2 linked regions of the Homo sapiens genome follow. The protein of the gene in region 2 purifies or fractionates together with the protein of the main gene of each other region. This does not show direct contact. Each region holds a gene or a part of one and is shown on either strand. Other genes may lie near its edges.

Region 1 (3,652 bases), on a different chromosome or scaffold from region 2:
AAAAGAAAAAAAAAATTGGCCGGGCATGGTGGCTCCCACCTGTAACCCCAGCACTCTGTGAGGCCGAGGTGGGTGGATCACCTGAAGTCGGGAGTTCAAGACCAGCCTGACCAACATGGAGAAACCCAGTCTCTACTAAAATTACAAAATTAGTTGGGCATGGTGGCGCATGCCTGTAATCCCAGCTATTTGGGAGACTGAGGCAGGAGAACTGCTTGAACCCGGGAGGCAGAGGTTGCAGTGAGCTGAGATTGCACCATTGCACTCCAGCCTGGGCACCAAGAGCGAAACTCCCTCTCAAAAAAAAAAAAAAAAAAAAAATAGCCGGACATGGTGGCTCACGCCTGTAATCCTAGCACTTTGGGAGGCCGTGGCAGGCGAATCACAAAGTCAGGAGTTCGAGACCAGCCTGGCCAACATGGTGAAACACCATCTCTACTAAAAATACAAAAAAAAAATTAGCTGGGCGTGGTGGCGGGTGCCTGTAATCCCAGCTACCCAGGAGGCTGAGGCAGGAGAATCACTTGAACCCGGGAGGTGGTGGTTGCAATGAGCCGAGATCGCACCACTGCACTCCAGCCTGGGCAACAGAGCAAGACTCTGTCTCAAAACAAAAAAAACAAAACAAAAATAAAAAATAGGCTTGGAGTGGCATCTCACACCTGTAATCCCAGCACTTTGGGAGGCCAAAGTGGGAGGACAGTTTGAGCCCAGGAGTTTGAGACCAACCTGGGCAACACAGTGGAACCTTATCTCTACCAAAAATAAAAAAAATTGGCCAGGTGCGGTGGCTCCCGCCTGTAATCCCAACACTTTGGGAGGCCGAGGTGGGCGGATCACCTGAGGTCAGGAGTTCAAGACCAGCCTGGCCAACATGGCAAAACCCCATCTCTACTAAAAATACAAAAAAATTAGCCTGGCGTGGTGGCAGGCGCCTATAATCCCAGCTACTCGGGAGGCTGAGGCAGGAGAATCACTTGTACTTGGGAGATGGAGGTTGCAGTGAGCCCCCATGCTATTGCACTCCAGCCTGGGCAACTTTGCAGTGAGCCCCCATGCTATTGCACTCCAGCCTGGGCAACAAGAGTGAAATTCCACCTCAAAAAAAAAAAAAAAAAAAAAAAAAAATTAGCTGGGTGTGGCAGCATGCAACTGTAATCCCAGCTATTTGGGAGGCTGAGGTGGGAGGATTGCTTAAGCCTGGGAGGTTGAAGCTGCAGTGAGCCAGGATCACAACACTGTACTGTAGCCTGGGTGACAGTGAGACTCTGTCTCAAAAAATATTAAATTAAGTTAAACATAAAAAATAAAAAAGAAAAAACAAAGAATAAGCATGTGTAGTATTCTCCAGCTATCATTTTCATCAGCTGGATTTTCAGGGTCCCCCACCCCCACTCCATGAAGAGGAAGAAAATGAGAATTAGAATCATGGGTAAAATGTTCACACGGACTCCTTAATGCATGAGAAAACATGGAGAGAGGGAGCAGGGTTAGGAGAGCTGAGGAGAAAAACACATAAACATTCAACTTACTTTGGGAGTTCTTTGTCTTGAAGGGATCCCATCAAGTATAGCAATGGCATCTTTATCTTGTTTTAGCATTGTATAACATTCAGCCATTTTGTATTTCACTTCAATTTCAGATGGAAGACACTAAAAGACAATGGAAATATTTCTTTGAAACGTTATTCCAACAATATGACAGTTCTTCAAAACGTTAAACATAGAGTTATCATATGACCCAGCAATTCTTTTTTTTTTTTTTGAGACAGGGTCTCGCTCTGTTGCCCAGGCTGCAATGCAGTGGTGCAAACATGATTTACTGCAGTCTTAGACTCCTAGTCTCAAGCGATCCTCCCACCTTGGCCTTCTGAGTACTACAGGTATGTGCCACCATGCCGTTTTGTAAAGACAGGGGTCTCACTATGTTGCCAAGGCTAGTCTCAAACTCCTGACCTCAAGTCCTCCTACCTCCGCCTCTGGAAGTGCTTGGATTACAGGTGTGAGCCACTGTGCCTGGCCTCATCTTCTTTTTTTTTTTTTGAGACAGAGTCTCGTTCTGTCACCCAGGCTGGTGTCTCCTGCCTCAGCCTCCCAAGTAGCTGGGACTACAGGCATCCACCACCATGCCTGGCTAATTTTTTGTATTTTTAGTAGAGACGGCGTTTCACCGTGTTAGCCAGGATGGTTTCAATCTCCTGACCTCGTGATCCGCCCGCCTAGGCCTCCCAAAGTGCTGGGATTACAGGCGTGAGCCACTGCGCCCAGCTTCTGGCCTCATCTTCTACATCTAATCAGCTATCATCTAAATCAGCGGTCCCCAACCTTTTTGGCACCAGGGGACCAGTTTCATGAAAGACAATTTTTCCACAGATGGGGGGTGAGGGGGTGGTTTCAGGATGAAACTGTTCCACCTCAGATCTTCAGGCATTAGTCAGATTATAATAAGGAACACACAACCTAGATCCTAGCATGTGTAGTTCACAATAGGGTTTGTGTTCCTATAAGAATCTAATGCCGCAGCTGATCTGACAGGAGGCGGAGCTCAGGCAGTAATATTCACTAGCCCTCCACCCACCTCCTGCTGTGCAGCCTGGTTCCTAACAGACCAGGCACTGGGGCCTGGGGACCCTGTTCTAAATTCTTGGAGTCTTTCTCAAAAAAAAAAAAAAAAAATCACAATTCTATCTCCAATTACCTGACTTTGTGGAGTAGATGCAGAATTTCCAGTTGAAGGTCTCACTTTTGAAGTTTTACTTAGCGCTTTCTTCTGCTGTAAAGCCATGGTATACTTACTCACAGCATTCCGATATTCCTTATCATGAAAGAGAGAATCTGCATGATACACCAAAAGCTGGTACTTCTGAGGTGGGGAGAATAACTCACTAGAAAACAAGAGAAAATGTAATACATCTTTTCCTCCCTTTCAATCCAAGCTCCCCCAGCTTCTTTTTTTTTTTTGAAATAGATTCTCACTCTGTCACCCAGGCTGGAGTGCAGTGGCACGATCTCGGCTCACTGCAACCTCCACCTCCCGGGTTCAAGTGATTCTCCTTCCTCAGCCTCCCGAGTAGCTGAGATTACAGGCACATGGCACCACACCCAGCTAATTTTTGTTTTTTTTTTTAGTAGACATGGGGTTTCGCCATGTTAGCCAGGCTGGTCTCAAACTCCCGACCTCAAGTGATCTACCTGCGTCGGCCTCCCAAAGTGCTGGGATTACAGGCGTGAGCCATCATGCCTGGCCACCAGGCCCTTTTAACAGTCTGAGATATATCTATCCATATTCTCATATTAAGATGAAGTACAGAGAAACCTCACCACTTTGAATCCTTTTTAAAAACAGGCTGCACAGGCTGGGTGCGGTGGCTTACGCCTGTAATCCCAGCACTTTGGGAGGCTGAGGGGGGCGGATCTCGAGGTCAGGAGATCGAGACCATCCTGGCTAACGCGGTGAAACCCCATCTCTACTAAAAAATACAAAAAATTAGCCAGGCGTGGTGGCAGGCGCCTGTAGTCCCAGCTACTTGGGAGGCTGAAGCAGGAGACTGGCATGAACCCAGGAGGCCTGTAGTGAGCCGAGATCATGCCACTGCACTCCAGCCTGGGCGACAGAGCCAGACTCCGTCTCAACAACAACAAAAAAAAACCAA
Region 2 (3,652 bases):
CCTCCCACTTCAGCCTTCCAAGTAGCTGGGATTATAGGTGTGCATCACCACACCTGCCTAATTTTTATATATTTTGTAGAGATGGGGTTTCCCCATGTTGCCCAGGCTGGTCTTGAACTCCTGGGCTCAAACCATCTGCCCACCTCATCCTCCCAAATTGTTGGGATTACAGGCATGAGCCACTGTGCCCAGCCCAAGCATTTCTATAGAAAAAGACTCTGAAAAAAAGGTTTGATATAATCTGTTGGTTTATATTTCCCCTATGACGTAGAAAGGAAGATGAGATAAAAATTCATTACTCGGGAGGCTGAGGTAGGAGGATCACTTGATCCCAGGAGATCCAGGCTGCAATAAGCTGGGGTTGTGCCACTGCACCCAAGAGCCTAGGCAACTGTGTGAGACCCTGTCTTAAAAACAGAAAAGAATTCATGGCATTTGGTATGTCATAGAAGAATTTTAATCACTTGCCATAAAGAAGTAAAAAGGGAAATCATTTCTTAGACACTACTTACGCTTTACAAATGATGGAGTGCTGAACCTCAAACTCCAAATTAGTAATAACAGGGCAAGTGTATGCTCTGGTAGCTGAAATATCTGGTGAATTTTCTTCTCCAGAAACAGGTTCAGTCTTCCAAGTTTTATTTAATTTTTCCATATCTTCTTTCAGCTGGTCCAAACACTGACTTAAAAATTCATGAGCATCCTAATAAGACAACAATATCCTTAATCAGATAAAAACATTTCTTGTCACAATAGCTTACTGAGGCTGGGTGTTGTGCCTCATACCTGTAATTCCAGCACTCTGGAAGGCTGAGGCAGGCGGATCACTTGAGGTCAGGAGTTCGAGACCAGCCCGGCCAACATGGTGAAATGCCATCTTTATTAAAAATACAAAAATTAGCCAGGTGTGGTGGCAGTCCCTGTAATCCCAGCTACTTGGGAGGCTGAGGCAGAAAAATTTCTTGAACCTGGGAGGCAGAGGTTACAGTGAGCCAAGATCGCACCATTATATTCCAGTTTGGGTGACAGAGCAAGATTCCGTCTCAAAAGAAAAGAAAAAAAAACCAACAACAAAAAACAAAACAAACAAAAAATAATAGCTTATTAACATTATAATTTATACAGTGAAAACCCTTGAAAGTCAATGACATATGTGAACAATGTCAGGTTTATTCTTATAAGAATTTGGGGAGCTGCATATTTTGTGAATAAAAACAAATGACAGATTATATATTCTTAATAATTATATCAGTTGCACTGACATGAATCAATGAATAACTCCTCACTTTGTTAAAAGAGGTAATTTTCGCAGGTAACACAGCCCAGGTCCTTGCACTGGTAAATCAAATCTATATTTGAAGAGTCACATTTAATCTTACTACAGCTCCTTAGGTTTTTCTTTCTTTCTTTCTTTCTTTGAGACAGATTTTCGCTCTTGTCACACAGGCTGGAGTACAATGGCACAATCTCGGCTCACTGCAACCTCTGCCTCCAGGGTTCAACCGATTATCCTGCATCAGCCTCCCAAGTAGCTGGGATTACAGACATGCGACATCACGCCTGGCTAATTTTTTTGTATTTTTAGTAGAGATGGGGTTTCACCTCATCAGTCAGGCTGGTCTGGAACTCCTGACCTCAGATGATCCACCCGCCTCGGCCTCTCAAAGTGCTGGGATTACAGGCATGAGCTACCGCACCCAGCCTCTCCTCAGGTTTTTCAATCTATAATGAACACACATACACAAATCTCGTTTTAAAATAAAAATCAAGAAACACACTAAAATCATGTCAATTTCCATGATTTCTTACACGTTATTTATTTGTTTTATTTTTATTTTTTTGAGACAGAGTCTTGCCCTGTAGCCCAGGTTGGAGTGCAATGGTGCGATCTCAGCTCACTGCAACCTCTGCCTCCCAGGTTCAAGAGATTCTCCGGCCTCAGCTTCCTGAGTAGCTGGGATTACAGGCATGTGCCACCATGCCCGGCTAATTTTTTTTAATCTTTAGTAGAGACAGGGTTTCACCATGTTGGCCAGGCTGGTCTCAAACTCCTGACCTCATGATCCACCCACCGTGGCCTCCCAAAGTGCTGGGATTATAGGCGTGAGCCACCGCACCTGGCCTATTTTATTTATTTTTATAAATATTTATTTATTTATTTTTTGAGATGGAGTCTTGCTCTGTCACCCAGGCTATAGTGCAGTGGTATGATCTTGGCTCACTACAACCTCTGCCTCCCGGGTTCAAGCAATTCTCCTGCCTCAGGCTCCCGAGAAGCTGGGATTACAGGCGCATGCCACCACGCCTGGCTAATTTTTGTATTTTTAGTAGACACAGGGTTTCGCCATGTTGGCCAGGCTGGTCTCAAACTCCTGACCTCAGTGACCTCAGGTGACCTGCCCACCTAGGCCTCCCAAAGTGCTGGAATTACAGACGTGAGCCACCGTGTCAGGCCTCTGAAACGTTTTAAAACAATTAATACTCACATTCTGCATATAACCAGAGAATCTCTCTGCTGTAGCTGAAATGGCATTTTTAACCTTCTTGAGTAAATCCTTTTTGGTCTCTGAATTACAGATATCTTTTTTAACAAGCAAGTGTGCAAAGCGTCTAGTAAAACAAAAAACACAAAGTTAGCACGTTTTACATGACATGGCGTGATATTTTAAAGAATAATTACTAATAATGGCACAGAAAATTTTTGAGTGTCTAAAATTCCATTATTCTATAATCAATGAAGTAAAAGGTTACTCAGTAAGTACAGTACATAATGATTACCTGATAAGTGCATTGAGTGGAATTTTCTTCCATGGGATACCTTGTTTAAGCAAGTCATTTGCAAATGACTGGAGTGAAAATAGAGATTGTAGAATAGCATTCATATAGCAGGTATTTCCCAAATTGGAGAAGCTGAAAATTAAAGAAATAGTGCTTTAGAAGGCAACAGGAATTCCTAAAGTATGTTCAGTATAGTAGGAGTTCTCCACTTTATGTTTCAGAATCACCTGGAGGGCTTGTTAAACTACATATTACTACACCCTAACCCCAAGGTTTCTGATTCAGTAGGTTTGGACACAAATGTGTCCAAAAAAAGAAGGCACAAAAATGTCCATTTCTAACAAGTTACTAGATCACGTTGATGCTGCTGGTCTGGGGACTCTACTTTGAGAACTACTGCATTATGACATTATAATAATAGGCCAGGCGCAGTGGCTCATGCCTGTAATCCAAGCACTTTGGGAGGCCGAGGCAGGCAGATCACTTGAGGTCAGTAGTTTGAGACCAGCCTGGCCAATATAGTGGAACACTGTCTCTACTAAAAACACAAAAATTAGCCAGGCATGGTGGTATGCGCCTGTAATCGCAGCTACTTGCAGGCTGAGGCACGAGAATCGCTTGAACCCAGGAGGCAGAGGTTGCAGTGAGCCAAGATTGTGCCATTGCACTCCAGCCTCAGCAACAGAGTGAGACTCTGTCTCAAAATAAATAAAATAAATAAATAAATAATAACTTAGTTTGATCTAATGGAAAAGTATACATTTTCAAAATTAATGCTAAACATGACTGGGGGCTTAACTAAAGTGCTTTTCATTCTTACTTATAATTTATTTTTTCATTTAAATATAACTTATTCATTTCTCTGAAAATGAAT

The links.
Region 1: the proteins of USP37 (region 2) and ANAPC7 purify together in Homo sapiens (affinity purification with western blotting, with the first as the bait; one study listed by BioGRID). This does not show direct contact.

Annotation. Positions count from the first base shown.
Region 1 is NC_000012.12:110,393,569-110,397,220, forward strand, and holds part of ANAPC7 (anaphase-promoting complex subunit 7), read right to left. Parts: intron 2,885-3,652; coding exon 2,698-2,884; intron 1,653-2,697; coding exon 1,533-1,652; intron 1-1,532. UniProt on the Homo sapiens protein: Component of the anaphase promoting complex/cyclosome (APC/C), a cell cycle-regulated E3 ubiquitin ligase that controls progression through mitosis and the G1 phase of the cell cycle.
Region 2 is NC_000002.12:218,495,248-218,498,899, forward strand, and holds part of USP37 (ubiquitin carboxyl-terminal hydrolase 37), read right to left. Parts: intron 2,911-3,652; coding exon 2,779-2,910; intron 2,611-2,778; coding exon 2,487-2,610; intron 704-2,486; coding exon 513-703; intron 1-512. UniProt on the Homo sapiens protein: Deubiquitinase that plays a role in different processes including cell cycle regulation, DNA replication or DNA damage response.